Linked DNA regions of Homo sapiens: region 1 is linked to region 2. The links come from fine-mapping of genetic effects on gene expression. A gene starts in region 2. The other region holds a variant in brackets. All regions are shown on one strand. Distances are from middle to middle. Region 1 overlaps RAB44 (RAB44, member RAS oncogene family). Region 2 holds the start of RAB44 (RAB44, member RAS oncogene family).

What was found. PIP is the estimated chance that this variant, and not a neighbour inherited with it, causes the effect.
Region 1: its variant is the best candidate, but not a certain one, in a credible set for the expression of RAB44 in lung (TOPMed, PIP 0.79).

The regions. Positions count from the first base shown.
Region 1 is chr6:36,726,240-36,738,440 of GRCh38, reverse strand. RAB44 (RAB44, member RAS oncogene family) reads right to left here. Exons shown (of 14, transcript NM_001257357.2): 11 at 10,750-10,864; 12 at 9,640-9,741; 13 at 7,692-7,768; 14 at 5,257-6,438. The coding sequence ends at 6,348. It also overlaps the pseudogene GPR166P. Among named protein-coding and RNA genes, the nearest start is that of RAB44, 35 kb to the right of the region's middle. RefSeq lists enhancers at 2,680-3,181, 11,643-11,782. The variant T/C (reference allele first, on the strand shown) is at 6,617.
Region 2 is chr6:36,690,595-36,702,795 of GRCh38, reverse strand. RAB44 (RAB44, member RAS oncogene family) reads right to left here and starts at 4,970. Exons shown (of 14, transcript NM_001257357.2): 1 at 4,881-4,970.

The DNA of each region.
Region 1 (12,201 bases), 36 kb before region 2:
AGCACGCATATGCACTTACTAAGCATCCTTCTAAGCACTTTACATGTGTTTAGCAAATTCATCTTCATAACAACCCTGTGAAGAAGGTATGTACTGTCATCATCCCATTTTCCAGATGAGAACACTGAGACACAGAGGCTCAAGATCACACAATTAGAGAGCAGTGGAGCCTACAGAGATCTGAGCCTGAAAGTGGAGTGGGAGGATCCATCTGGTTACCTAGAGATGTGAGCTCTAGCTGAGCCATTTAGTTGCTTTGTGACCTTGTTTGGGCCATCTGCCCTCTGGGTCTCAGTCTCTCCACTGGTAAAATAGAGGGGATGGGCTGTCAGGTCCCTAAGGGTCTTCCCATCTCCCTTGAATCTCAGCGCATCCATCAGCCTATACTCTTAGACCCCCGCCAGGCCCCACAGGCCTCCTGAGGCCCTGTCACGGCCAGGCTGGACAGTCGCCACCACTGAGGCTGCCACTCCCACACCTCTGGGATGCCTGGCCATCATCGGCCTGCAGAAGAGGTCCCTGAGTCCTGCCTGGAAGGGGCGGGAGAGGTAGAAGCAGAGGATAGGGCTGACAGCGCAATTGGAGTAGGCCAGGATGGTGCAGAGGCTGGAGGCCACAAAAGCAGCCGGTGTGGCAGGCAGGTAGCCCATGGCTGCCACATAACCCAGCATGGAGCAGGGCCCCCACATCAGCACAAAAACCACCAGCACCACAAGGCTGAGCCCTATGTTCTCTTAATGCTCCTGGATGCTCTCTCCCATGGGACCTTGGGGCTGGGTCCACAGGAGCCAGCCCACGTGGCTGAAAGAGCAGCCCAGCCCCAGCGTGCATGGCAGGAAGGCCAGGGCTCCCAGCAGGCTGATGTAGCAGGAGGTCCCAGCAGGGCTCAGGAGCAAGAGGCAGGCCTGGGTCTTGGGAGCCCCCGCTGTCTCCTCCTCCACTGCCACCCTCTGGAACAGCCAGTTGGGCAGGGATTCTGTAAGGCCCAGGGCCCACATGGCCCCACAGAGCAGCAAGAGGGTGCCCCAGCCGGCTGGGAAGGCCAGGTCAGGCCGGGCCACAGCCACATGGCGCAGGAGAGCTGTGGCCACCATGCTATAGAAGATGCAGAACGTGGTGGCTGTGTTGGTGGCCTGGCTAATGGTGCAGATGGCAGGGCCCAGCCACCAGTTGTGCTGCAGGAAGCTCAGCAGCAGCACAGGCACCACGCAGGCCAGGAAGAGCAGGTCAGATGGCGTGATGTTCATCATGAGGCTGTGGGTCAGGGAGTGGAGCGGGTGGGGGGAGCCCGGGCCCCGGCCCACCACCAGCAGCATGAGCCCATTAGCTGACAGCCCCACCAGCAGGATGAGGCCACAGACCCCAGCAGAGATGAGTCGGAGCAGTCGCTCAGGTGTGGCCGTGAGCTGCGTGGTGAACGTAGCATTGGGCTCCATTCTGTTTCAAACACACAAGGACAAAGTAGAAACCAGCCAGCCCCAAAGGCCGCCTTCCCCATTCCTGCTAAGCCTCCTTTTTTCACAGACCCCCTGCATGTAGTGGGCCCAGATAAGGCCTGTCCTTGGCACACATTAGCCCCTGCAGACCTCATGACAACCCCATGGGATGGACTCCATTAGTACCCTGGGTTCAAATCCTGCCTCTGCTGCTTGCTAGCTCCAGTACCCTGGGATTTATTTATTTATTTATTTTTTTAGAAACAGAATCTCACTCTATCACCCAGGCTGGAGTGAGATCTTGACTCACTGCAACCTCCGCCTCCTAGGTTCAAGCGATTCTCATGCCTCGGCCTCCCAAAGTGCTGGGATTACAGGCGCCACCGCACCTGGCCCCTGGGAGAGTTACTTAATGTTTCTCTACCTCAGTTTCCTCAGCTGTAAGAAAGCAAGGAAATAAAATAAAACAGATGTCAATAGTAACTATCATAAGTGGTAAGACTAGGGTAATTTTCATTTTCTTCTTTAAAATTTATTTCTAAAATTTCTGCAGGGAGTACACATTGTTTTCATAATCTGATAAATATATATGTGCATACATACACACACACATATGTATCTATTTTTTGACAAAACAAAAACCCTGCCCTGTGAAACAAGCAGGTTTAATTTGAGGTTCAAATGGAAAAGTGGGTCTGAAAGGGCTTTGAGAAGGTGTGAAGCCCCTTCCAGTGGTTCCCAAGCTTCTCTGCACTTTGGGATCACCTGAGGAGTTTCACAAATACAGAAGCCTGGGTCCCACCCCCAGAGACATGACATAGTTGGTCTGGGCTTTAGCATTTTTGAAAGATCCCAAATAATTCTAAGGGCAGACCAGCCTGGGAATCATTGCCCTCTAGGTTATGCTGTGCAGGCCCCTGGCAGAGTGGGGGAGTCTGCACCCAGTGGTCAGACCTTTCTTCTCACCCCCACTCTGTCCCACATGTCAAGGGCAGGGGGAGTCCCCGATTGGGAGGACTCTGGCTACAAGATGGGATGTAGACATCCTAGAGCCAGCCCAGTGGCTGATGTCACCATTGGCCGCCCTGCAGGCCAGGCCAGGGCCCGGGAGCTTTAGCTGGAGGCTTGCCTGCTAACTCAGTACATATTTCCTGAGCATTTGCTCTGGACCAGGTTCCCGGAATCCAGCAGCAAACAAGACATAGCAGAGGAGTCCTTACTGGAGTTGCCCTCCCCTTTTCTACCACACCGGGGTGGGGGCTGGAGACACTCTTCTCCTGCGGGCTCAAAGCCAGGTTTGAAGGAGTCTCTGAGTCCCTCCTGCAGAGCCCCAGCCTGGGGAACTTGGCTTCGTCTCTGGGGCCCCAGGGCAGCAACGTGCCTGAGGGCAGCTGAGGGGAGACTGGAGAGGGGGCCTCTGTGAATTCTGATGTCGGCCACCTTCCCGGGTCCCACCAGCTTCAGAGACGGCAGGAGGAGGGGAAATGAAGGACCTGTCCTGGATGAAGGCTGTCATCCAGCCACTTTCCTGGCATTTATCACTGCCTTTTCGTCTCTTTTTCCTGGTCCACACCCACCAATGACATGGACTATTACTGGAGAGGAATTGGCAGGGAGCAATACGAGGCTTCAGGGACCTGGCCCCTCCTTCCCCGAAGCATCCGCATCTTCCTGTAAGCAGTTGCATAACTTCAGAGTTAAGTCTATGGGTATCGGCGTTTGCGTTTAACACTGGCTCCAGCACTTACTTGCTACGTGACTACGGGGAAGTTACTCAGCCTCCCTATGCAGTACTTTCCTTTTCCGTAAGATGGGGGAGCACGCCTGATGGTGTGAGGGCTAAATGAATTAACACGAGCTAGGTGCTCAGAACAGTGCCTGGCATACGGTAGGCACTGGGTAAAGGAGGGATGTCATTCTGCCCCTGCTCACCCTCAGCTCCCAAAAGCCCTCTTCTCTTAGAGCTCCTGCCCAGCCTTCCTTCTCTCCCCATGCCCTCCCTTCTCACTCCACAGCCTGAGTCCCATCAGCCCAGTCCCACCCTCCTTTTCTTAATCAGACTCTGGCTAAGCCTAAATCAGAGCCTCCTTGGCTGACATGCCCCAAGAACTCACCACTTGCCTGGAAGTTCACTCTGAAGTCTACCTCAAGTTTCTCCTGCTGCTGTCGTTGCCTACTTTGTGCTGCTCTGAGGTTCCTGGGTCCTGTTCCCTGGCTTGTGAGCCCTTTGACAGCAGGAAAGGCTGGTGGTCCTTGCACAGCTGTGCCCTGCCCAGCAGGTGGATCCGGCCCAAGAAAGCCAAAAGAGGGTGCTGGGCAGTGTGGAGTTCCTCCCAGAACTCCACCTCCTGCGAACCTGAGTTGCCTGAGGCCACAACAGAGCTGAGCTGAGACGGGGAGGCCTGGGGGCCACTCCCGTACCGGGCCCCCAAACGACAGGGGCTGTCTGCTCTACTGCCTCTCCCAGGAATCACACCCTGCCTACCTGCCTCATTAATTCCCTGGCCTACAGGACAGAGATGTTGGTGCCTGCCAGGTCCCTGGGCCCCAGAGAAAGAGCCATTAGCAACTATAGGACCTGTTTCCCATCCTTATCCAGGGCCAGCATCACTCACTGCAGCCCACACCCCTCTCTCTCTCTCTCTCTCTCTCTCTCTCTCTCTCTCTCTCTCTCTCTCTCTCTCTCTCTCTGAGCACACTGAGAAACTGCTCAGTTCAGGGGCAGGCTTGTGGGCTGCGGGAGGGGACCTGAGATGGGAGAAGACATTGGGGTAAAAAGGATCAGTGAAGGGCCCAGTAAAAGAATCAGCTGGAGGGCCGGGCGCGGTGGCTCATGCCTGTAATCCCAGCACTCTGGGAGGCCGAGGCGGGTGGATTATGAGGTCAAGAGATCGAGACCATCCTGACCAACATGGTGAAACCCCGTCTCTACTAAAAATACAAAAAATTAGCTGGGTGAGGTGGCGGGCGCCTGTAGGCCCAGCTACTTGGGAGGCTGAGGCAGGAGAATGGCGTGAACCCGGGAGGTGGAGGTTGCAGTGAGCCGAGATTGCGCCCCTGTGCTCCAGCCTAGCGACTGAGTGAGACTCCGTCTCAAAAAAACAAAACAAAACAAAACAAAACAAAAACACACAAAGAATCAGCTGGACCATGGGAATCATCCACATGGAGTCTGGAGGTTGAATGGGGTCCATTAAGGGAATCTAATCCAACTTTGGCAGCTTCAGATGCTGGGATCTTCTCTACCTCACCTTTGCCAAGCATTACCTGTCTTCTTGTGCGCCTCTGGTGATGGAAGGCTCACTGCTGCTGAGACGTTCCTTTCAGAACTGAGAAGAGGGGTTGGGGCCAGGGCCTAAGACTGTGTGATGCAACAGCCCTCTGTTGCTCCCTCTTTCTCCTTCGTTCTCTCTCTCTGTAACTCTGTTCCTTGAACTGTCTTTGCTTGTCCCCCTATGAAACTGGGGTTTCCATTGATTCAGCCAGGAAATTCCCCAGTACCTGAAGGATTACAAAATACCAAACCCAGGCTGGGGGCGGTGGCTCACGCCTGTCATCCCAGCACATTGGGAGGATCACTTGAGCCCAGGAGTTTGAGACCAGCCTAAGCAACATTGCAAGACCTTGTGTTTGCAAATAGCTAAAAAATTAGCCGGATGTGGTGGCATGTGCCCATGGTCCCAGCTACTTGGGAGGCTGAGGTGGGGGAATCACTTGAGCCCAGACAGTTGAGGCTGTTGTGAGTGGCGATCATGCCAATGTACTCCAGCCTGCGCAACAGAGAGAGATCCTGTCTCAAAAAACAAACAAACAAATTCAGTGCCTGGCACATGTTGTATATTCAATTTGTGATGATGGTAAGATGTGACAGACATACAAACGAAGACCATGGCCGTCTCTCCAAGACTCTAAAGCAAGCTCTCCGAGGGCACTGGAAACCCCAGCCCTAGCTGATAAGGGGCAGCCACCATTCAGGAGGTGAATATTATGGAATTCTGGAAACTTCCACAAAAGCTCCAAATAGAAGTGTGTGAATGATTCTGAGTCTCGGCTCCCCAGCTGCTTGGACCCCCCAGCCACACCCTAGCTGCCCCTCAAATGCATCCAGAGACTGACAACTCAGGCCAAAGCCCTGTGCTTGGGGACACCATGGCATTGGAGCAGGGGGCGGGACCCCCAAATGTGACCCCTGGGAGGTGTGTTTTGTATGGTGGGGAAAGGGAGTGAGGTTGGGGCTCTGGAAGACAGGAGGGCATCGAGGCATATCAGAGGCCTTTGGAACATTACTCTTCCCAGGAACCAGATTCTGCTGGGAAGAAAGCCCATGCTTGCAAATAGAAATAGCGAGGGAGACCAGGCCAACAGCGCCCTGCCAAGCAGAGCACAGAGGGACCGCTCTAACACCGAGCAACATGTGATTAACAGGTTACACTAATTAGGAGCCAGCAGCACCCAAGGGAGCTCCTTGGGAAGTTTCTCTCCTCCTCCTCCACATCTCTTTTTTCTGATTATGTATTGAATACTGTTATTGTTGAAAATCTGAAAATACAAATATGTGTAAAATGGAAAGTAACACCCCCCCCCCACATTCTCCCTAAAATTTTACACCCACAGATGTGCGGCCAATATTTTGGTGTATTTTCCTTAAGTCGTTTTTCTAGACTTTCTTTGTTTGGAGAGTTTTGCCATACCCCTGCCCCTCAAGCCTTGTTCACTCAGCAAAGCCCTCCTTTGGAGTGTGAAAGGCAGAGGTGATGCGGCCCTGCTCTGGGATCCGAGTCCTGAGTTGAGAAGGGTTTTCCTGAACCTCCAAGCTGGTCCTCTGTGTCGTTGCTGTCCAGGAACAAAGGACAGGAGCTGAGGGACAGGAAACCCCATGGGTGTCCATCCTACCCAGGACAGGACAGGTGATCAGGAGCAACAGCCGAATCTCTTGGGCGGCCTCTTGGGGGCCACCTTCACCAGCGAGTCCTTCAGGCCTTCTTCTTGCATCCTGAGTGACCTATGTGACAGTGCCAGGCATCAGGCCTCTCTCTCACCTCCTACGGGCAGCACGGATGGGCCCATGGGTGCAGCTGGGGGGTGGGAGGCCGCACCCACAACCCCCACAACAGCTCTGCCCCTGCCCTGCATTCCACATGAGACCCGAAGAATTGAGTCACTGAGACTTTGACCTTCTC[T/C]TTCTGGCCTACTATGTGCCAGGCACTGTGCAGGACTCTGACTATGACAAAGAAGCCACCATTCCCTCCCTTGAGTAGTGAGAGAGACAGACAGGAAAAGGGGTGACTGCAGCCCGGGAATGATGGGGAGGCACACAGGGACTTCACACCAGGTCCTGGAGGGATCTGGGGAGGAAGGAGATGGTGACCGAACTGAGCCATGGACAAGGTATGCCAGCAGAAAGGGTGGGGGAGGTGCATCCCAAGCAGAGGGCCATGGCGCGGCTCAGTGCCGAGAGAGCTTGGAGGCTGGGGAAGCAAAAGAAGTCCATTCATTTCTTCGTGATATATTTACTGTGTGCCAGATGGTGCTCATCTGATCTAGCTCCCCTCATGCCTTACTCATTTTATTCATTTATGGAGCACCTAGGTCCCAGGTATGGGGAGAGGGGCTGAACAAAACAGACATGGCCCTGCCTTCCTGGACAACAAGAAAACAGATAAATGCATATATCATTAATATGTGTCGTGTCAAGAAGGGCCATGAAGGACACAAACAGGGGCTGTGATCCAAAATAGTGATGGCAGGTGGGTGATCAGGGAGGGAGTCTCTGAGTGGCTGGAACTTGGCAAGTGTGTGTGTGTGAGTGTGAGTGTGTGTAAGAGTGTGAGTGTGTGTGGGTGTGAGTGAATGTGTGTGTGTGTAGGGGTGGGGGAGATGGCACTAGAGATGCTGCAGGCCATTGCAAAGCATTTGGATTTTAATGGAAGCTACTGGAAGTTTGGGAGCAGAAGAGAGACACTCCTTTTCTCAGCCCTCTTTGCAAATGAAAAAACTGAGGCTCAGAGAGCCTAAGTGCCTGTGGGGAGTGATTCAGCGAACGGGAAGGGCAGAGCTGGAGTCAGGAGACTCTCAGTGCAGGGCTCTCTCTCCCCTCAGACTGGTGAGCCCAGGTCTTTAACTAGGTGCTTCCCTGACCCATTTCCTCAGAATGGGCCTTCCTGTCCCACCTGGGAGTCAAGAGTGGGGCCGGAGCTGTCCCAGAGGATTCTGCAAGGGGGGGGGTGGGGGCGGCGGGGGGCGGGCAGCACTTACCTGGCCAGGTTTACTACAGGCTCCAGGATGTTGTGACCCAAGGCGGCACTGCACTCCCCAAAATAGACCCCCAGTTCCTGCAGGCCAGACAGGGAGGGACATATGTGCCTTGGGAGAGACAACTGAAAGGCCAGGCCATACCCCGCCACTAAAGTCCCGGCCATCAGAGTCCCAATGCATCCCTAAGCTGACCTCAGTGGCGAGCAAGACAGCCCCATCTCAGCGTGGGCCACGGTCCCTGCCTGGAGCCCTTTGCCCACTGTCCCTTCACCCCGGCTGGCCAAGGTGTCAAGGAATGCATTGAAGAGACATTTCACAGCCTTCGGAGTGGCATGGGAAGCCTGCATCCCAACTTGGAGAAATGCCCCTGGAGACATTTTATAAATGTTAGTTATGTTTTTTAATTTCAGAAATATTTCATTGGGGGAATATTGGAAGATATAGTATAAGACAGTACCAGCTCAATATCTAAACCACTGCTGTTAGTGTTTGGGTAGATATTGCCATTCTGTTTTATATAACCCTTTTACGGGGCGGGGGCTAACTGTCCTGTACAGTTAGGTTAAACCACACGAAATTGCTATTTTTGGCAAGCTCCAGTCAAATATCAGCAATTTCATATGTTTCAACCTAACCTATATCTAGATTTGTAGCTGCTTATATGATTTTCTATTATATTGTAAGCATTTCCCCCACACCCTTAAATATTTTTCCAAGACAGGATTCTTAATGGCAAATACTAACCTCTCACATGAACATCCACAGTTTAACCACCAATTGCTGCCAAATGTTTGTTCTTATAAATAATATTTGAAAACCCTCATATAAACCTGTTCGATTGTACGTTATACATGGGTATCCATTAGGTGTTCCTTTAGGGATTATTACTTCTGAGTCTTCCCTTACGATAAATTGCTAGAGGATAAATTACTATGTCAAAGGGATGAGTTACTACTTTTAAGAAAAAGGCCGAGCATGGTGGCTCACGCCTGTAATCCCAGCACTTTGGGAGCCCGAGGTAGGCAGATCCCTTGAGGTCAGGAGTTCCAGATCAGCCTGGCCAACATGGTGAAACCCCGTCTCTACTAAAAATACAAAAATTAGCCGGGCGTGGTGGCACATGCCTGTAATCCCAGCTACTAAGGAGGCTGAGGTGGGAGAATCGCTTGAACCCGGGAGTCGGAGGTTGCAATGAGCCAAGATCGTGCCACTGCACTCCAGCCTGGGTGACAGAGCAAGATTCCATCTCAAAAAAAAAAAAAAGAAAGAAAGAAAGAAAAAAAATTCCCTTCCAGCAGGAGCCACAATGATGACCTCACAATTTACGGGAAGTGGGAAGAGAAACAGGAAGGAAATACAGTAGGAAGATGCCAAGAGGGGTTGTGTGAGAGGTGGGGCGAGGAGTGATTTTTCCCTCTATTTTTATTACTCTCCAGATTTTCTGGAATGTGGTTAAATGCCATTCATGAATAGATAGTGTTCACTGTCTGGCAGTGGGGCTTTTGATGTAATCATCCCAAGGGAGAATTTGAGTCTTAAAATAGGAGAACTTAGAAGGCAGCACGTTAATTAGAGACCAGAGATAAAATTAAAATTTGATTGGGAATTTTAAGCAAAGCTTTCAAAACCTTTTTACTCTGAAGCTATTTCTTATGTAGGTGGGGACATGGTGTGGGAATGTGCTAATTCAACAGTGAGGTTCAGTGTCACGCCCGCCACTCCAGCCTTGGGTTTGGGCTTAAAGCGCATCTCCAGAGGCCAGGGCTGTGTGGGAGGCAGAGGTGGCTAGGCTGCTGTCCACTCTGAACAGGCCTTTGGTTGGGGCAGGGGCAGGAATGGGCCACGGGTTCTTCTCGGCTGCCCAGGTCAGGTGATGCCTATCCACCACCTGCCAGGGAGGTGTCTGCCCAGTCCACGCACAGAGACGGGCTGATGCCCAAGTGCTTACCTGGGCCAGTTGCTGCCCAGCTTCCACGGACACTTGCCGTTCCTCCTCACAGTCCATCTTGTTTCCCAGGAGAAGGATGACCACCCCATCCGACCCTGCATCCTGCACACAGAACATGTTCTGTCAGCCACACCCACTGTGTGCCAGGCTCCTGGCACATTTGCCTTCCTAGAAGCTGAACTGTGTCCCCCGCATGTTCCCCCTCCCAGGCCACATCCACTCCATAACCTTCTCACCTGGACCCTTTCCCCCATCCTTCCTCTCTGCTGATAAACATCTCACTTATTTTCCAAGGCCAACCTTAAGAACACCTCCCCCAGGAAGCCTTCCTGGGTTGTTCCTGCCCATGTCCTCTCTTCCTGCCTGTTCTGAACAGTCCAGCACTTGATTATACATTTTCCCAATTGTCTCATGAATAATAATAATAGTTTCTGATTAGTGAGTGATTGCTATACACCAGGTGCTGTGCTGAAAGCAATTCTATCAATTAATTGTCACAACTCCCCTATGAGAGAATTCCAGAAATTGAAGTTCAGAGAACTCAATTCACTTGTCCAAAGTCACAGAGTTCGGGTGGGTGGGATTCAAATGTAGGTCCTGTCAGACCCCAGTGCTCAGCTCCCCTCTTCACACATTACCTTATCCTGCTTCTTTTGCTAAACTAGAAACTTCCAGAGAGAAGGCAACATGGCTAACTTCACACCCCTCTGCTGTGCTAGTACACACTGCAGAATTTCAGTATATATGCTTTGAGGAAGTAAGCAGGGGAAAAACTAGAGATGTGTGAACAGAGGAATTACCACATGGAATGGCACAAGAACTACATTAGCCTCAAGTGTAAGAAGAAGACATTACAAACAGCTGCCATATGTAGGAAGAGAATGTTCACAGGATAAAGGAAGTAGTTTGGTTTGAAGTCTGTACTATGTGGTTGTGGTTTCTTTGTACTACTGCATTCCCAGCTCATCCAACCACATGCCCTCAGTGGGTGGTGTCACCCATATGTCTGTCATGTCATTTGTAATCCTGGGAGAAAAGAGGGAGTGGGCAGGATATAAGATCCCTCTTGACTGGAGGGACTGGGGCCAACCCCAGCAGCCATCTGCTCACCTGGAGACAGTCTAGCCAGTAGCGCACGTGGGCAAAGCTCTCCTGGGAGGTGATGTCGTACATGAGCACCACCCCGTCAGCCTTGCGGAGCAGCTGTCGCGTCATACTGTGGTACCTGCCCAGAGAGTCTGCATGAGGCCACACCAGGCATCCAGACCCCAGGCCCTGGCCTCTGCAAAGTGGGAGAAGTAACCTATCCTACTTCTAATTGCTTCCCACAGAGCATGTCCGTATGCTTTTCTTCGTACAGTGTAGTTATTGTTGACTAGGTAACAGTTCTCATGGCTCAAATTTCAAAAGGTCTCAAGGAGAACTCAATGAAAAGTCTCCTTCCTTCTGCCCCATCCTGGAGCCACCCAGTCCCCCTCCCCAGAGGCAACCAGGGTTATCAGTTTCTTAAATATTTTTCCAGAGGCATTTTACGTATATACATATATATACACACACATATATACACCCATACACATACATCTTTCCCCCTCTATTTTATACAAATACAGTGTAAAACATTCATCATACTCATTAATATTCAGTGTTCTGCATTTTGTTTTTTTCCAGTTAACAGGATGTCTTGGAGAAATTTCCCTATCGGGCTGGGCACGGTGGCTCACGCCTGTAATCCCAGCACTTTGGGAGGCTGAGGCAGGAGGATCACTTGCGGTCAGGAGTTCCAGATCGGCCTGGCCAACATGGTGAAACCCTGTGTCTACTAAAAATACAAAAATTAGCTGGATGTGGTTGTATGTGTCTGTAGTCCCAGCTCCTCAGGAGGCTGAGGCACAAGAATCACTTAAGCCCTGGAGGTGGAGATTGCAGTGAGCTGAGATCACACCACCACACTCCAGCCTGGGTGACAGAGCAAGACTCTGTCTCAAAAAAAAAAAAAAAATCCCTATTAGTACATAAAGAGAGTCCTCAGTCTTTGTGTGGCTTTATGGTGTTATACTGGGTAGATTGACCCTCCTTTATTTAACTGGTCCCCTATTGATGGACATTTAGGTTGTTTCCTATGTTTCATAACACAAGTGAGAATACTATGACTGGTCCTGGTCCCTTTGTTATTATAGTCATATGAGTCTATTTATAGAATGAATTTCTAGAAGTGGAACTGCAGAATCAAATAAGATATGCCTTTTAAGTTTTTATCACTGCCAGGTGCCGTGGCTCATGCCTGTAATCCCAGCACTTTGGGAGGCCGAGGCAGGTAGATCACGAGGTCAGGAGTTCGAGACCAGCCTGGCCAATATGATGAAACCCCATCTCTACTAAAAATACAAAAATTAGCTGGATGTGGTGGTGGGCACCTGTAGTCCCAGCTACTCAGAGGCTGAAGCAGGAGAATCGCTTGAACCCGGTAAGTGGAGGTTGCAGTGAGCCCAGATCACGCCACTGTACTCCAGCCTGAGCAATACAGCGAGACTCCATCTCAAGAAGAAAAAAAAATTTTTGATC
Region 2 (12,201 bases):
AAGAGAGGCTGTGGTTTGAAAGGGATAAAGTCTGAGCCTGCTTTGCGGGAACAAGTCTGGGGCCCATAAAGCTATGGGATGAGAAGGACTTGATGTCCAGACAGACAGGGCAGCTTCCTGCAAGTGGTGGGGCTTGTGCAGGTTCTGCAGGAGGCATGTAGGATTTGGAAGCAGTAAACAGTGTGTGTGAAGGAATCGAGGCAGAATAGTAAGGCTCATGCCCAGGAGATGGAATAGATATCTCCCCTGGGCATTCTCTGTTGAGGCCGAAGGCCACAGACAGGCTGGGTGGAGTGGTTAGAGGGCTCTGCTTTAGGCCTCATGGGCTCATTCCAGGGGGTCATTCCACGGCCTCCCCTTGGGCAAGCTTCCCAAGGGGAACGGCACAGGTTGCACAGAACTGGATGAAGCAATCTCTCATCCTTAGGAGGCCCCAAACTTCAAACAGAAGTACATTCTCTCTCTCTCTCTCTCTCTCTCTCTCTCTCTCTCTCTCTCTCTCCCCCTTCGAAGTCTGTTTCAGATGAAGTTTTAAGATCATAAATGTAAAACCGCAGTGGTGAGCTGGAGTCCACTATTAGGGGCTTGTGAGGGCTGACTGTGCACACCCCTTCCTATCCCAGCAGCTTGGCATCAGCCACTGTGGGAGTATTGGCACCATGGGAATCAGCAAATGCCATGAATCAGGTCTCCTGCCCCCACCAAAGAATAGTCACCAGCACACCTCTTCTGAAGACTTTCATCTGCCCCAACCCTTCCCACCCTCTATCATGCACATAAGCAACAACCATTTACCGAGCGCCAACTGAATGCCGGTACAGTGCTAAGCAGGCCCGCTGCAATCCATATGTTTCCTTTAAGTGAATTAGGAAAAGGTACTTCCTGCTGGCAGACACAGCCCAGTGCCAGGGCTCATGGTTTGACAAGTGGAATGTGGGCTGGATTCCAGTCCCCATGCACCCCCTTGGCTGGGCATCCTTGTGCAGGACACACCTTGTACACCCCAGCAGAGTCCCTGGCCCTGCAGGTAGAGGTGTGACTAACTCCTGTTCTCCCCTAGGGGTCCTCACAGCCTCATGCAGGAGACACAAACATAATTACAGTGCAGCACAGAAGGGGCAGCATACCTGTGTGTCAGGTGCTGGGAGAGCACTGAAAAAGGAGCAACTCACTGATCAGGGTGTCAGAGAGGGCTTCCTGGGGGAGGTGACATAGCTTAGCAGTGAGCTCCAGGGCAGGAGAGATTATACTTAACCCTGATGCCCTCATAGTGCCCAACCTTGCTTAGGATATGTACTGGGCTCTCAACCCACTTCCTCTGCTGATTCATGGTCCCCTAGAATGTGGAATGTTCTAACAGACAACTGAAGAGACTCAGAAAATATCACGGCCAGACACAGTGGCTCACACCTCTAATCCTAACACTTTGGGAGGCCAACGGGGTGGATTACTTGAAGCCAGGAGTTTGAGACCAGCCTGGGCAACATGATGAAACTCCATCTCTATCAAAAACAAAAAATTAGCCAGGCATGGTGGCGTGTGCTTGAAGTTCTAGCTATTAGGGAGATTGAGGTGGGACAATCACTTGAACCCAAGAGGCAGAGGTTGCAGTGAGCCAAGATTGCACCACTGCACTCTAGCCTAGGCAACAGAGTGAGACACTGTCTCAGAAAAAAAGTCTTTCTAATAAAAAGCAGGGAGGCAAAAAAGCCAAGAATGAGGAATAAGATTCTACGGGTTAGAATAGGGAAGTCCCCATGCTAATCTAACTGGCCTTCACGCGGTATCTCTCACCCCTAATTCATCCCATGTTGCTCCATGGAAACAGTGACCACATAGATACCCCTTCTTGGGCCTAGAGGCCTTCCACACCTAGAAAGACACCATCTATCTCCATTCCCCATCCCCCCTAAGAGGGGAGCCCCCTCCCTCCATGGGCCTATGACCCTTCTTCAGTGGCTAATGGGGTTTGGCCTGGCAGTTCCAGCCTTGCAGGTTACACTCAAAGAAAGACTCCCTGTAGCATAGAAGGGGATTAATAAACAAAACAACAACAACAAAATAAGCTGGGCGTGGTGGCCTGTAATCCCAGTACTTTGGGAGGCTGAGGCGAGAGGATCACTTGAGCCCAGGAGTTCAGGACCAGCCTGGGCAACATAGCGAGACCCTGTCTCTACAAAATAAAATAAAACTAGCTGGGCATGGTGGGGTGCCTGTAGTCCTAGCTACTTGGGAGGCTGAGATGGGAGGATCACTTGAGCCCAGGAGGTCAAAACTGCAGTGAGCTATGATTCACCACTGCACTCCAGCCTGGGCGACAGAGTGAGATTCTGTCTCAAAAAAATAAAAAAGTAAAATTAAAAGAAAGACTCACTGAGCCTCAGAACTATGAGGGTCAGTCCCACTCTCGTGACCTGGAGATGCAGAAAAGGAGGCTCACAAGAGAAAGTGACTTCCAGTCCCATTGCTGTGAAGTCAGACAGACCTCTGCTTCTCCCAGCTCTGCTGCCCATGGGCTGTGCAACCTTAGGGAAGTCAATCAGCATCTCTGTGCCTGAGTTTCCTCACTGGAAACTTAGGACTAATATCTCTCCCACGGGGATGCTGCGAGGATTAAGCAAGATAATTAAAGTTGAAACATCAGTTCCCATTCCCCAGCATGGCCCACCTCCCTTTCCAGCTTCACTTTCTCTTAGCACTTGTCACCTTCCCAGAATAGAGAGCCTTTTGCTCGTTTTTGTTGTAAATTTTCCTTCTCCTCATGCTGAAATAGAGGCCTCACGTGAGTAGGGAGATGACCATTCTGTTCACTGTTCTATCCCAAGAGCCTAGAACAGCGCTTGGCACACAGTTGGTACTCTGCAAATATTTGCTGAATATATGATCCACATAAAGCCACTTAGGAGTGCGCTTGGTATCAGTGACTACCAGGTAAAGGTAGCAATGACAACAGTGGTGATGATATTGATAAAGGTGAATTCTATTTGAGGCACATAAAAGCCAGGTTCCATGCAGATACAATTGATCCCATTTGACAGATGAGGAAACTGAGGGAGGTTCCAAGAGGCAGAGTGACCTGCCCCAGCCATGATGTCAGTGGTAGAACTACACCAGACTCTGCTCTTCTGGTTGGTCATGGGATGGACTTCCCCAAGGCTACAGAGGTGGCTCTTCCCTGGGCAGAAGGCCCCTCTGGGGATGACAAACACCCAGTGGAGTAGCCCTGAGTGGGACAAGGGCTTTGGAACGGGGTGGGCGTTGACAGGCTTGGCTCCTGTGGTGACGCCCAATGTCTCATGTACTTCCGGCAATGGAGCTAACACGGCCAAGGGAGCAAGATAAGATTCCCTGTGCAGAAGCCTCCAGAAGCAAAGTCCACTGTGATGTGAGTGTCACATCGCAGCCTGCCGGGCTCCCACAGGTGTAGGATGTTAGAATCCTGGAAGAAATTCCCTGCAGCCACATCCTAGGACATGTGGCATTCCTGACTTTCCTTTCTGGGAGTTCCTAGCCAAGCTACACCTCCACAGCCCATTTCCAGCAGTCCCCTGGCATTTTTTAAGAAAATAGCACCTTCCAGACACCTCGCCTGCCCCACCTCAGCATCTGCCCTCTCTGCCAGTCAATCCTTCTCTCCCAGGAGGGGTACTCAGCCACCCGCTCCTTGCCTGACAGGTGGCCTGGGGCAGGAAGGCAGCAGGTGCCCTCCAGCCATCGCCACCTCAAAATCAGTCACTTGTCACCATCAGGTGGGATGGTGCACTCACCCCTCGTGCCTTCACATTCAGATCCCTGACAGCACCCCCACGGCCTGACAGCACAACCTAAAAACAGTCTGTGTCCCTTCTAGGCCAGGCCTGGTCCCTCAGAGACAGCAAGGACATCCTTCAGTCAATCCACAAATGTACACGTGCAAACGTGCACGCACACACACCCTCCTTGGCCATCATCCTCACCCTCCAATCCCTCACCATCAGCCTCTCAGTCAGACACAGCACCCCTCACGGCCATTCCATCATTCCATTCTGCATGTGCAAATGCCGTCGCCCAGCACACACATCCCTCCGAGTCAGCTGGCAGGGCCACCCTGCCAGCGCCCTTCTCCTCCACCACTTTCCCCTTAGTGCATCCTCATGCCTCACGTCCTTAAGAGTGGGGGACCCCTTCATGGCTAGGACACACATATAGCCCCTCAGCATGACCACCTCTCCCCACATCCCTCACCTAAGAAATCGCATAAAACTTGAAGCCAAACATGAGAGCAAATGAATCCCACTCCCAAGCACCTGCGGGAATCCACTACCACCGTGGTATTCTGTTAGGCAGCAGGCACCACAGGCTGCCCACCAGGAAGTGGAAGCCAGAGAAGAAGAGTGGGGTGGGGCAGCAGGCAGCAGCAGATTACAACCTGGCATGGGCCCTGCCTGGGGCCTCCGGGTATCCATCACTGTCTCACCAAAGGGCGCTCAGAACTGGGTCTGCTCTCCACTTGGCTGGCTTCAATAGCTGTAAATAATAGCCACAGTCGCTAAACCCCAGTGGTCCAAGTCAGTGGGCCTGAGAGACCACCTAGTGTCTTGTTCCAGTCTACTTATCCTCACTCCTCCTCTCCTAACTAACAGAGAAACTGAGGCTCTGAGAAACCAGGTGACTTGCCCTAGGTCACACAGCCATTTACGGGTAGTGATGTACCCCAGCCTCTTGCCCAAGTGCTTTCCCATCCCCTCCCTTAGACCATGCAGAGAGCTCCAAATGCAGGAGAAAAGAGGGCTCTGCCTTTTGCACCCTTGACATAGAAGTTAAACAGGGACCCCAGCTCCCTCCCCCATCCTCATCCTTCCAAAGAAAAAGAAGCATTGCAACCTTGGGATGGCTCCTACCTCTCAAAGGCTCCCAGTGGAACACACAGCCCTGGGCTCTGGGACCTGGTGGTAGGGTGACTGCTGCCCTGCGGAGCCCACGAGCTCTAGAACTGTTAACAGTCTTGTCTTGCTTAATCTCCCTTTCCGTTCCCCAGCGAGCCAATCTCCTGTGCTCATCTACAGGACTTCCTGTGGAAGCGACCACTGGCGGCCCTTTCACAATTTTGCCTGGCACCCCCAGGCATCCCTGCCCTGATTGGTGTCTTGAAGTGGAGAATGCTGGAGCTGGCAGGGAGGCCCTCCTAAGCAGAGGCTCCAAAGAGTGAGATGGACTGCTCAAGATCACCCAGCCCTTAGTGGCACAGCCAGGACTGGGCCTCAGTCTCTGGTTGCCAAGGCAATGCCTTATCCCAGACAGCAGCAGGTTGATGGGCACAGCCGTGGCTGAAGCTAAGTGTATGGGATGCCCCGGGAGAACTGCCCATCCTGCCTCACTTCAGGCCCTCACTCTCAGACAGTGTCTTTGAGCCTCAGGGGAGGCTTTATATCTAAACCACCTTTTAGGGAACAATCTAGTCTGATACCAAAATACACTGTAGAGCTACAACCATCAGAACAGTGTGGAATTGGAGCATGACTATAGACAGATGAATCAGTGGAACAGAATAATGAAATAGACTCAAATATTTGTGGGACAGGAATAGACTCAAATATTTGTGGGGATTTAGTGTATCATAAAGGCACCACTTCAAATCATTGGAGAAGAGATGGTTTATTCAATAAACTATGTTGGGAGAATGGGCTAGGTATCTGCAAAAAACAAAGAGCTCTAACTCTAAAAGCATTCCAGATGGATAAAAGACATAAGCATTTTAAAAATCAAAATCACATAATTATATGTTGTTTGGGATTTACTTCAAAATTATTGAAGAGTGTGGAGAATAGGTAGGACATAGATGAAACAAGACTGGCTCTGGACCTGTTCTGATCCCTGCTGGAGTTAATGAGGGTACTGCAGGCTCATTATGTTCTTCTGCTTTTCTGTATGTTTGAACAAATGCCATAAGAAATCATGGCATAGTTCATTTGCCATGGTTGCAGAAGAAGGAAGGAAAGAAAAGGAAGGAAGGAGGGAAGGAAGGGAGGGAGGGAGGGAGGGAGGAAGGAAGGAAGAAGGAAGAGAGAGAAAGAGAAAGAGAAAGAAGAGAGAGAAAGAAAGAGAGAGAAAGAGAAGAAAGAAAAAAGAAAGAAAGAAGAAAGAAACTAAGAAAGAAAGAAAGAAAGAGAAAGAAAGAAAGAAAGAAAGAAAGAAAGAAAGAAAGAAAGAAAGAAAGAAAGAAAGAAAGAAAAAAAGAGGAAGGAAGGAAGGAAAGATAGATCTGTCATGGGATAGGCTGGGTGTGGTGGCTCATGCCTGTAATCCCAGCACTCTGAGAGGCTGAGGCAGGAGGATCGCCTGAGCCCAGGAATTCAAGACCAGTCTGGACAACATAGTGAGACCCCGTCTCCATTAAAAAATAATAATAATAAAGAAGGAGAAGAAGAAGGAGGAGGAGGAGGAAGAAGAAGAAGAAGAAGAGAAAGAAGAAAAAAAGGAAGAAAGAGATCATGGGATAATTTTTAAATAATCTTGGATTAGGCAAGGCCTTTCCAGATATATCACAAAGCATTAGAAGCCACAAAAGAAAATATTGAGCCATTCAACCATACGGAAACTTTTTAAAAATAAATAAAACTGAATGGCAAAAAAAGGTCACCACTGATAAGTCAAAAGGCAAACTCTGAAAAAATACTTACGTATCATAGAAAATAAGTTAATTTCCTCCCTCTGTAAAGAACTCCTGCAGATCAATGAAAGACCAATAATGCATTAGAGAAATTGGCACCATATGTGAATAAACAATTCATGGAAAAATAAATATCAATGGATTTAAACATATGAAAAATATTTATAAAAGTAAACATTTCTGTTTATAAAAATATAATAAGAGAAATAAAAGATAAAACTACGTACCATCACAAAGAAGATGAGGGTAAAAATAAAAAATAAAACTACACCGAGACATCATTTTCAGCTATTCAATTAGTAAGATCCAAAAAGTGATATATTATGTCATAAAGGATGTAGGAAACACATTCACACATTATTGGCAGGAATATAAACTGGTACAACTTTTATGAAAAGAAGTGTATAATATCTGTCAACATTTAAAATGCAAAAATCTTTCTACCCAGCAATTTCACTTTCAGTCATTGATTCCACAGATGATATACAATATGACAGTATGGAAGGATACTCATTACAGTATTGTCTGTGGTAGCAAAGGATTGGAAATGATCTAAATTTCCATCAGTAGGGAGCTGGTTAAATGAGCTCTGATACATCCGAACATTGGCATACTCTGCACCGTGAAGAAAATGAGAAAGATCCAGGTGGAGTGATATGGAATGACCTTCAAGATATTGTGTCATATGAAAAAAGTAAGGTGCAGAACAGTGAGGATAGTGTGCTTTTTATGAAGAAAAAAGTGTATGTGTGTGTATGAAATATATGCAATAGATAAGGGCCGTGATATAGTTAAGTTTTATGTCCTCACCCAAATCTCATCTTGAATTATACTCCCTATGTGTCAAAGGAAGGAAGTGATTGGATTATGGGGGCAGTTTCCCCCATGCTGTTCTCGTAACAGTGAGTGAATTCTCAAGAGAGCTGATGGTTTTATAAATGGCAGTTTTTCCTGTGCTTATATACTTTCCTCCCCTGCTGCCATGTGAAGAAGGTCCTTGCTTCCCCTCACCTTCCGCCATGATTGTAAGTCTCCTGAGGCCTCCCCAGCCATATGGAACTGTGAGTCAATTAAATCTCTTTCCTTTGTAAATTACCCAGTTTCCGGTATTTCTCTATAGCAGTGTGAAAATGGACTAATACAGGCCAGGTGAGGTGGCTCACACCTGTAATCCTAGCACTTTTGGAGGCTGAGACAGGCAGATTGCTTGAGCCCAGGAGTTAAAGACCAGCCTGGGCAACAAGGTGAAACCTTGTCTCTATAAAAAATAAACAAAATTAGCCAGGCGTGGTGGCGCATGTCTGTAGTACCAGCTACTCGGGAAGCTAAGGTGGGAGGATCGCCTGAGCCCTGGAGGTCAAGGCTGCAGTGAGCCGTGATTGTACCACTGCACTCCAGCCTGGGCGGCAGAATGAGGCCCTGTCTCAAAAAAAGAAAAAAATAGATAAGCACACACATTCATATATGATTGTAAATGCATAGAACATTTCTGACAGGATATACAAGAAACTAGTCAGATTTGGGCTGGATAGAAGTGTTGGGATGGAGGAGGGGGCAGATTTATGTTTCACTGTTTACTTTTAATGTATTTTATGTTGTGTACTATCTGTATACATTACCTATTCAAAAAGAAACTTAACAATAGTATGTACATATACAAAGAGAGACTGATGAAGGAAACATGGTAAAATGTTAACATTTAGGAACAATGGTAAAGGGTATATGGGGATTATTTTACTATATTTGCAACTTCTCTGGATGTATAAGATTATTTCAAAACAAAAAGTTTTAAAAATTATTAAATTTAATTTCTAAATAAATGAATATTCTCACAACCAACTATCTGAGGAAATTGATACTCAGAGAGTTTCTGAGGCTTTATTGAACTAAATAAGGTACTCATTTATTTATTATTATTATTATTTTTGAGACAGGGCCTCACTCTGTTGCTTAGGCTGGAGTGCAATGGCACAATCATAGCTCACTACAGCCTCCCGGGCTTAAGAGATCCTTACACCTCAGCCTCCCAAGTAGCTGGGATTATAGGCATGCACCAACACACCCAGCTAATTATTGTATTTTTCGTAGAGATAGGGGTTTCACCATGTTGTCCAGGCTGGTCTGGAACTCCTGGACTCAAGTGATCCACCTGCCTCGGCCTCCCAAAGTGCTGGGATTACAGGCACTAGCCACCGCACCCGGCTTATTTATTCAACAAATGTTTATTAAGCACTTCTAGGTGCTGGACACTGTGCTACGAAATACAAAATATAGAAAATATAGAATATGAAAATGTAGAAAAATGTAGGGTAAAAAAAGCCATATGTAATATAATGCCAAACAGTGGTAATTGTTTTGAAGAAAAGCAAAGTAGACTGAAGGGCTAGAATGGTGGTGTGAGGTGTATTTTAGATGAGGTGCTCAGGGGAGGCCTGAGGAGGTGATGTTGGAAAGGACATGTGAGAAAGAAGATCTGGAAGAAGAGGTTCGAGGGGGAGGGAACGGTGAGTGCCGAGGCCCCGAGGCAGGAGCACGCTTTGTGTGCAAGAGAAACAACGAGGAGAGCTCCATGGTGGGAGCACGCGGGAGAGGGAAGGATGGGCGGAGATGGAGACAGAGGAAACAGGCAGGACCCGGAGACCATATGGGCCCATTTGGAGGGCGACATGAACCGACTTAGGTTTGAAAGGGATCCCCCCGCTGCTTTCATTCTGGAGAAGAGGCTGTACTAGGCAAAAGCAGCAGCAGGGAGACCCATGAGGAGTTAACATAATCCAGACAAGAGGCAGTGGCTTGGCCGCGGAGGGCAGTGGTGGAGGTGATGAAAGGTGGCTGGACTCGGGATATGTACTGAAAATAGGGCCAGCGGGGCTTGCTGCTCTATCTGGGCAAATGCAACAAGTCCAGGACCTTCTTTGCAGCAAAGGACTCTCTCCACTCCTCTGAGAACAGAGTGGGGTTGGATTTTTAAGGCCCAGCCCTCAGGATCTCAAGGCATCCTCAGTTTATTTGCCCCCCAACCCTCACCGGCCCTGCTCCCCACCATGGAAATAAAAGGGACATGGGGAAGGCAAGAGTGGTCACACCCTCGCGGGTGGAGCCGGAGTGCCAAGGAGTCCTGCGGGTGCTGAGAGCTCAGCCTGGCCTTGTCCTTGGCACCAGCCCCAGGGAAAAAACCTGCCAGGACACACCAAGCGCTAGGAGAAAAATTAGATCCAGGCACGTTTGGAAACGATGGAGCTAACTGAAAAATACGATGTTGCTGAACTTAAAAACACTGTGCTCGGAACTAGGTTTTGCAAAAATAGAATCAATGGACAAGGATCAAGGGCAGTGAAACTGTTTTACAATTAGGAAAGTTTTCACACTCACTAATTTTTAATTCCTTACAGATGCTTGAAAGCTCTTCACAGCTTGTTAAATCCTGAAGCAACAAACTCTCCATTCTAGGGCCCTGCAGTGTGAGCTGATGTGCAAGCTAGGACCTGAGCCTCCCTGCCTCCAGCTACTGACTCCAAAATAGCTCAAGGAGCTTAGGCAGGTGGGCAATCCCACAGAAAACCAGGGTCAGGGAGCTTGCTTCAAAGCTGCATTTGGGTAGCATTTTACATAAGATTGAGAAAACCTAAGTTACATCAAAGACTGAGGAGGTGCACAGAAAGAGGTGGGTCCCTGCAAGCCTCCTCTTAGAATTGTCACGGCAGCAGTGGCCCTGGGTGAGGCACTTCCCCTTTCTGGTGTATTGAGCAGGCAGTGTGATCTGGAGTCATCAGCGTGGACATCCTGGCCCCTCACCACTTCCTAGGGGCGTGAGCTCAGGCACTATCTGGCCCATATCTGTGTTCACCTAAACCTTTGGTAGATAGTTCCTGGCAGGCTAATGATTTCCCACCTCAAATGTCTTCATCCCTCTGGTTTTCTTCACCATTACAGGAATTTCTTCCACCCCATGAGGAGCAATCTGGACTAGGCCCTAGAGGCAGCCCTATCAGTGATGGACAGTGTCCTTAGATAAGTAGCCTAGATAGCCAGGTGAGTACTCCAGAGAGAAAATTGTAGGGTGTGTTCCACACGGTTTCCTTGAGGCTCCCTAGCAGGTTTAAGCCCCAGTTGCACACAGTGGAACTTGTTCACTGACACCTTTATTGGCCTTCTCCTTTTCTTTCTCACATTCTCTACTTTCCTGCTGTGCCTCCAGGGACTACCTCCCAGGCATTCCACCTGCACACAAGTCCTTGTCTCAAGTTGTTTGGGGAGTGGGGGTTGGGGGTGACTAAGACAGTTACCAGAAATGGCAGAAGCAGGATGGGCTTCTGAAAACAGATCCCTCACCAGTGAAGTGACAACGCGGACCCAAATGCTGGTAGTGAGTAAGGTGGTGATAACTCTTGGCAGACTACAGCATCACAGTGTCCACAATGTGTGTAGTGGATTGGGATGAGGCACAGGTAAAATTTCAGGGGCAACACTGACTTACACTGTAAGTCTAATACTTGAAAGATACAGGGCAATAGTAATGATAAGGATTATGGGGTTGGTTGGCTTTTGTTAATTGCCCTAGAAACCTTGAAGAAAACTCAGGGTATGTTGTGAAGACAGAACTCCATAACAGCATTCTAAATGACACTTATCTCTCATGGCCCAAGAGTAGGCTGTGCTGAAAATCAGGCCCAGGATCTGATTGTAAAAGGGGTGAAGCTTCAAGAGAGACTAAAGGCACAGCCTCAGCAGACCTACTACCCTAGGGTCAGAATTCTGATAGGGAAAGAATGGGGCATTAGGACCTGAATGGAGATATTTGGATAGACGCACTTGAGAAGCTTGTACCCTCAGCTTCCTTGAGCCTTCTAGGCCTGCAGAAGGGCTCCTTCCGTTACTAGAGAACAATCACCCATAACCTGAAGACCACACTAATGACTCACCTGAGGTGGATGTCTCACAAGGTGATGCTTATCTTCCTAAAGATCCTTCCCTCCTTTCCTCACTGCCTCTAGACCAGGGTCAAAAAACATTTTCTTAAAGGGCAAGAGAGTAAATATTTTAGATATGCAGGCCATGTGGTCTCTGTTGCAACTATTCGATTCTACTTTTGCACTTAAAACGACAGTGCAAAAACAACCATGGGCAACAGGTAAACAAATAAGTGTGCGTGCATTCCAATAAAACTTTCTATACAAAAACAGGCAGCTGGTGCATGGAACTATGGTTTGCCTACCCCTGCTCTAGACCAGTAATTAGGGTCAGGTCTTACCATTGCCCAAGCAGGAAAGTATATAGTCCCCATTGCTGGAGGAAATAGCTTATTCACAAAAAAAAGCTACAGGTCTGGCTGACAAATATTAGTAGGAACAGGAAAACACATATAGGAGGAGATCTTGAGGATGTGGGACTGGGGCTGGGAGGAGCTGAGGAATACAAAGCTAGATAAAGAGGGTTTTATGGAGGGACCCTTCCTTTGACTCAGAATTTAACATCCTGGCGAGACCACTGGAACTGGTCTTAACACACTGCTGAATTGGTCCTTAAGGTTTAGACACAGTGATGGCTGACAG